Homo sapiens: one gene and its partner. The protein of the gene in region 1 interacts with the protein of each later gene in a pairwise test. Each region holds a gene or a part of one and is shown on either strand. Other genes may lie near its edges.

The links. Proteins that work in one complex are often made in the same cells at the same time.
Region 2: the proteins of APBB2 (region 1) and MEOX1 interact in binary tests that used the Homo sapiens proteins (3 or more experiments, as listed by UniProt).

The regions. Positions count from the first base shown.
Region 1 is NC_000004.12:41,008,456-41,012,107, forward strand, and holds part of APBB2 (amyloid beta precursor protein binding family B member 2), read right to left. Parts: intron 1-3,652. UniProt on the Homo sapiens protein: Plays a role in the maintenance of lens transparency, and may also play a role in muscle cell strength. Involved in hippocampal neurite branching and neuromuscular junction formation, as a result plays a role in spatial memory functioning.
Region 2 is NC_000017.11:43,651,920-43,655,571, forward strand, and holds part of MEOX1 (homeobox protein MOX-1), read right to left. Parts: intron 1-3,652. UniProt on the Homo sapiens protein: Mesodermal transcription factor that plays a key role in somitogenesis and is specifically required for sclerotome development. Required for maintenance of the sclerotome polarity and formation of the cranio-cervical joints.

The sequences.
Region 1 (3,652 bases):
CATTATTTATTTATTAAGCTCACTTGCCATATTCCAGGCACTGAAAATACAAAGATGAAGATGAACCAACCCTTGCTCTTAAGGTCCAGAAAGTCGTAACTCAGAGTCCAAAATATAGGTAATTCATAATTAAGAGAAAAGCAAACTTTTATAACACACCACTGTACTGATACTGTCTCTAATATAATAATCATGAATATTCATTGAGCTCTTGCTATATGCCAGATACTGCTCCTAAAAGCTCTTTGAAGATGCTCTCGCTTAATCTTCACAGCAGGTCTATGCCAAAACACTCTTATCCCCATTTTATAGATGAGAGGCTATGAGAACTGCCTAGATATAGCAGAGCTGGGATTTGAACTCAGGAAGCTCACTCTAGAGCCTATGCTCTTAATGATAAGTTAATGGATCATGAGGCGCATTGCCACACCCATCTAGACTTGGGACTTGGTTTTCTCTGTGTATAATTCTGCTTTTGTACACTTTAGCAATGAATCTGATTTTGAAACAGTTACTACACAAGATCCATCTAGTTTCATACTCTGTGTCTTCAATTTTATTAAATCCCAAACTAAACATAAAATTACATGTGGGTACCACTGAAACCTGTACCCAGGAAGGTTCAAAATGATGCATCTTTTCAACGTTTTCATAAAGCAAACATGAAACACTAAGTGATTAACAGAGAGACTATATACAGTGTGACCAACAGGTATTTATTTATCTGAGCCATCATGCTTACTACCTGGGGCCACTGAGGGAACTGTATCTTTGAAAAAAACCCTAACTAGATTCAAAGTTCTCACTTTGCAGTAGCAAGATACAACCTTTCTTTTAGAATCAGGGCCAAGGCACTCTTTAACTTTTCTAAACTCCTATGAAAATAGTCATTTCACAGATGCTTTTCCTTTTTCAAATAGCCTCTTGTTTTCTTAAAGGACAGACTACAGAGGAGGAAAAGGGCAGCCACATATTGTATACATGATTGATTGTACAAAAAGAAGTTACTAAACAGCTGGAGGGGGCGATTCAGTAGTAAAGGAAAATAGAAAGTAGTCAGTCTCTAGGTTAGCCATTGCATTTTATTGTATAAATAGCATTCTAACTTGGAAAGGATGCCCCTGAGGTAGAAATGAGTCTATTTTTCTAGGCTCCCCAAAGTGCAGTCTACGATCCAAAGATAATTGCATCATGATTTAGTCATAAAACACACACCACTGTGATGACTATGTATTTAACACACAGCAAGTCAACAGACAACTATACCCTTTTTATACATGTACTATGGCATGGCATACTAAGATGTCACAAGATATTTGCTCTCGTTTTCTCTTTTCTTTCAACTGTTGGTATTTGTGTTTATTTTATATATATACACATACACATGTATATACTATATAAAACATACATAATAAACACTAACTTTATCATTACAAGTGAAACATACAATGTTTAATTTAGACTGATCATGATTATTTTAAACACTAACAGTATGTTTCACAGGAAGGATGAAATCAAAAGAAATACAATGCTAAAAAACTGCTTATTTTATTTCATTCACCAATCTATGTATTACCTGAAACCTGAAGTGTGATTAAAGCAAAGTGATTTCATTTCATGGGGATCCACAGCAGACTCTGAGGCAATTCCAAAAGAGGACTCCCAAAATTATGACTATTAATATTGAGACAGTGCAACATGCTGAAGCAGGTGCAGAGATCCCAAGTGAACATTTTGAAGGCTGGCATAGGTTTGGCTTCTAGTATATTTTTTAAAAACACAATCTCATTGCTTTTCGGTCACAGCTAATACATTTTTTCGAGCATATTTGATTTGAAATACCTATCCTCAGCAACTTATCAAGGGCCACCATCATCCTGTCAAAACCAACTTTCAGAGAGAAAACTAAGCATATCTTCTTAACATGTAAAAAAAACTCTAATCCAGTTCTCATCACAGGCCAAGCACTGTAAGATGTTCTGTGGAAACCCAACAGCAAGTAATGTCAGGACACTGAGCAAATGAGTGGTAAGTGTCACAGCAGAGGGGCCCCTGAAAGTCTTCCTGGAAAGAGGGAGTTAACGTGTACATTTCAAGAGTCCCAGTAGGTAGACTGGAGTGCACAAACTTTGCCCTCTCCACAGGCCCCTACTGACACCAGCACTCAATAAGCCAAGGGGCTATGGACAGAAATACCTAAATACTCATCAGCAGGGAACTTGCTAAATAAATCGTGGAACTTGTATATAGTGGAATAGTATACATAATACTTAAAAAGACTGACGTAGAAAAATGGACTGATCTACAAAATACGTTCTTACGTGAAAAAAAGCAAAGCATTCATAAAACAATCTAATTGGAGTAACTTTTTCCTGGTTTTAACTATTTATTGTGGCAAATTTTAAACATACAAAATTAGAGAATAGAATAATGAACCCGCACGTACCCATAATGCAGCTTTAACAATCAGCAGCTTATGGGCAATTTTGTTTCTTTTTTTATCCTTCTAATCCCAATTATTTTGGAGAAAATACCATACACAATATTGTTTCCATCAGTATGTGTTATACTGTATTATATATGTTATACTATGACATAGATTAGTATTTTATATTAGTATATATCTCTAAAACATAGGGATTCTAAAAACATCATCACAACATTTGGGTAAATTTTAAAATTGATTATTATTGTTTTTTTTTTTAATTTTAATTTAATTTAATTTTATTTTTAAATTTCTTTTGAGATGGAGTCTCGCTCTGTTGCCCAGGCTGGAGTGCAGTGGCACAATCTCGGTTCACTGCAACCTCTGTCTCCCAGGTTCAAGCAATTCTTCTGCCTCAGCCTCCCGAGTAGCTGGGACTACAGGCACGCACCACCACACCAAGCTAATTTTTGTACTTTTAGTAGAGACAGGGTTTCACGATATTGGTCAGGCTGGCCTTGAACTCCTGACCTGGTGATCCACTGCGCCTGGCCTAATTTTTATTTTTTGAGATGGAGTCTCGCCTGTCACCCAGGCTAGAGTGCAGTGGCGGGATCTTGGCTCACTGCAACTTCCGCCTCATAGGTTCAAGCAATTCTTGTGCCTCAGCCTCCCAGGTAGCTGGGACTACAGCCACCCGCCACCATGCCTGGCTAATTTTTAATGTTTTAGTAGAGAAGGGGTTTCACCATGTTGCCCAGGCTGGTCTCAAATTCCTGAGCTCAGGCCATCTCTCCACCTTGGCCTTCCAAAGTGCTGGGATTACAGGCGTGAGCCATCATGCCGGTCTTAAAATTTATTATTAATATGCGGATCTATGACTCAAACATTTTCTGAGAGGAAATAAAAACATAAGGTAATGGTCATCACTGGGAAAGGGGGCTGGGGTGAAGGGAAGAGGCAGCTTAATTATTCATTTAAAAATACATTTATGTTTTTTGAAACAGAGTCTCGCTCGATCACCCAGGCTACAGGGCAATGGCATAATCATGGTTAACTGCAGCCTCGAACTCCTGGTGTCAAGTGATCCTCCTGCCTCAGCCTCCTGAGTAGCTGGAACTACAGGCACATGCCACCGTCCACCATGCCCAACTAATTTTTTTGGAGGAGGAGAGATGGGGTCTTACTGGTCTTGAACTTGTGGGCTCAGGTGATCCTCTTGCCTCA
Region 2 (3,652 bases), on another chromosome or scaffold:
CTCAGCAGAAACGGACTTTCTCCAGAGTTTCCGACTATACCTGATCAGGGGCCTGAGCAGGCCCAGGCGTGGGATTTGTGCTGGAGCCTCTGAGTTCAGATGGTGGCCGAGGCCTGGGTCCTGCTTTGGGCTCTGAGCTTTCTTTGCTTGTCAGAAGAGGAGGTCAGGAGCTCTAATCAGGAGGCCGGGGATGCCCAGAGGGATACTGGCTGAGTGTGGAGTTGCTGTCTCCCCTCCCACGCTGGCCACTCTGGACCATAAAACTTCTTCCTCACTAGGGGTTCTGGACATGGACTCGGGACAAGAGGAGCTGCTGCAGCGGTGCACCCCTCAAACCACACCCCACCCAGCACTGCCACAACCCTAAGCCAGTAGCATCGTCAGAGTCAGGCAGGCCCGGCTGACAGCAGGGGGCAAAGACTTCAGCAGAGCTCAGGACACTTTGGCCTGTTTTTGAACGTGGGAAACCTGATGCAGCCAGCCAGCATCAGGGGAGGACTTTAAAGAGAGAGGGGTGCTCATATGTGGGTTTGGGAAAACTGGAGCCAGGGGTTACCAAGTGTTGGCTGTGGACTCTACATCTCTGATATCATTTAGTCTCACAGCTACCCACCTTATGAAGTAGGTACTGTTACCCTCATTTCTCAGAAGAGACTCAGGGAGGGTTAGGACTCACCCACGTCCACACAGCCAGGAAGTTGTGGATCAGGGACCTGAACCAGGGCTACCTTGTTAATTCGCTTGACCTTAGTCTCTGACCACCCTTCCTCCTATTACTGTACCGTGGCCCAGCAAGAAGGTGAGCATGGGCATGAGGTCACTTGTATGGGACTTGGCATCACTCTGGCGACCCAGGTGACACTTATTGGGGTTGTCCATTTATTTCATTCTCATCTCTACTATTGCTTTTTTTTTTTTTTTTTTTTTTTTGAGACGGAGTCTCACTCTGTCGCCCAGGCTGGAGTGCAGTGGTGTGATCTCGGCTCACTGCAAGCTGTGCCTCCCAGGTTCACGCCATTTTCCTGCCTCAGCCTCCCAAGTAGCTGGGACTACTGGCGCCTGCCACCACGCTTGGCTAATTTTTTTATATTTTTAGTAGAGATGGCATTTCACCGTGTTAGCCAGGATGGTCTCGATCTTCTGACATCGTGATTCACCAGCCTCAGCCTCCCAAAGTGCTGGGATTACAGGTGTGAGCCACCGTGCCCAGCCTACCATTGCCTTTTTTTTTTTTTTTTGAGACGGAATCTCACTCTGTCTCCCCAGCTGGAGTGCAGTGGCACGATCTTGGCTCACAGCAACCTCTACCTCCCTGGTTCAAGCGATTTTCCTGCCTCAGCCTCCTGATTAGCTGGGACTACAGGTGTGAGCCAACACGCCCAGCTAATTTTTGTATTTTTAGTAGAGACAGGGTTTCATCATGTTGGTCAGGCTGGTCTCAAACTCCTGACCTCAAGTGATCCACCCACCTTGGCCTCCCAAATAGCTGGGATTACAGGCGTGAGCCACCGCATCCAGCCCATGCCTCTTTTCTCCTTTCCTCTGTCAAACAGCTCCCTTCTTTAGAGATTCACTCCTAAAACTGCCTCCACTTTTTTTTTTTTTTTTTGAGACAGAGTCTGGCTCTGTCACCCAGGCTGGAGTGCAATGGTGTGATCCAGCTCACTGCAACCTCCACTTCCCAGGTTCAAGCGATTCTCCTGCCTCAGCCTCCTGAGTAGCTGGGACTGTAGGCGCATGCCACCACGCCCAGCTAATTTTTGTATTTTTAGTAGAAATGGGATTTCACCATTTTGGCCAGGATGGTTTTGATTTCTTGAGCTCATGATCCGCCCACCTCGGCCTCCCAAAGTGCTGGGATTACAGGCGTGAGCCACCGCACCCGGCCAACTGCCTCCACTTTTTATGTCTGTACTTGTTGGTGTAAGATAGGAAATCAGGGATCTGCTTGTGGCTAGAAACAACTTCCTGTCTCAGTGGAAAAGCTCTACCAGCCGACAGGACCCTGAGCTAGGAAAGCTCTGGGGTCAGGCACACATCTGGGTGCTGCTTTCACTAAAGGGGTTTTCAACTGAAGGGTCTGTGCCACAGTTTGAACCTTGTCCCTTGTTCCTGTCCCCGTACAGTCCTGTACAGTCCCTATAAGGGCAGAATTGTGCTTCCCTCCCCAATTCCTATGTTGAAGCCCTAACCCCAGTACCTTAGAGTGTGTCTGTATTTGGACATAGGGCCTTTAAAGAAGGGATTAAGTTAAAATGAGGCTGTTAGGGTGGGTCCCAATCCAATCTGCCTGATATGCTTATAAGAAGGGGAGATTAGGGGCTCATGCCTGTAATCCCAGCACTTTGGGAGGCCAAGGCGGGCGGATCACCTGAGGTCAGGAGTTCGAGACCAGCCTGGCCAACATGGTAAAACCCCTGTCTACTAAAAATGCAAAAATTAGCCAGGTGTGGTGGCACACGCCTGTAATCCCAGCTACTTGGGAGACTGAGGCAAGAGAATCACTTGAACCTGGGAGGCAGAGATTGCAGTGAGCCGTGATCACGCCATTGTGCTCTAGCCAGAGCAACAGCAAGACTCTTGTCTCAAAAAAAAAGAAAAAGGAAAAATTAAAAATATGGTCAGGTGTAGTGGTTCACACCTGTAATCCTAGCACTTTGGAAGGCCGAGGCAGGAGGATTGTTTGAGGCCAAGAGTTCAAGACCAATCTGGCCAACATAGCGAGACCCCTGTCTCTATATTTTATTCTAATAATAAATAATTTTTTTGGAAAATTAAAAATATAATTACTACATAATATAGCAATTTCCCTTCTAGGTATACACTCAAAAGAATTGAAAATACACTCTCCAGCCGGGTGCAGTGACTCACACCTGTAATCCCAGTGCTTTGGGAGGCTGAGGCCAGTGGATCACGAGGTCAGGAGATTGAGACCATCCTGGCTAACACAGTGAAACCCCGTCTCTACTAAAAATACAAAAAATTAGCCAGACGTGGTGGTGGGCGCCTGTAGTCCCAGCTACTCGGGAGGCTGAGGTAGGAGAATGGCATGAACCCGGGAGGCGGAGCTTGCAGTGAGCTGAGATCGCGCCACTGCACTCTAGCCTGGGTGACAGAGTGAGACTCCGTCTCAAAAAAGAAAAAGAAAAAGAAAATACACTCTCCAGGAGGTATTTGCACACTCATGTTCATTGCAGCATTATTCACAACTGCCAAGAGGTGGAAGCAACCTACATGTTCATCAACAGATGAATGGATAAAGAAATTTGGTGGCCGGGCACAGTGGCTCACGCCTGTAGTCCCAGCACTTTGGGAGGCTGAGGCAGGCAGATCACAAGGTCAAGAAATTGAGACTATCCTGGCCAACATGGTGAAACCCCGTCTCTATTAAAAATACAAAAATTAGCTGGGCGTGGTGGCGTGTGCCTGTAGTCCCAGCTACTTGGGAGGCTGAGGCAGGAGAATCACTTGAATACGGGAGGCGGAGGTTGCAGTGAGCCGAGATCGCGCCACTGCACTCCAGCCTGGCAACAGAGTGAGACTCCGTCTCAAAAAAAAAAAAAAGAAGAAAGAAATTTGGTATATCCATACAATGGAATGTTATTGTCTTCAGAAAGAAGGAGGCCAGGCATGGTGGCTCACACCTATAATT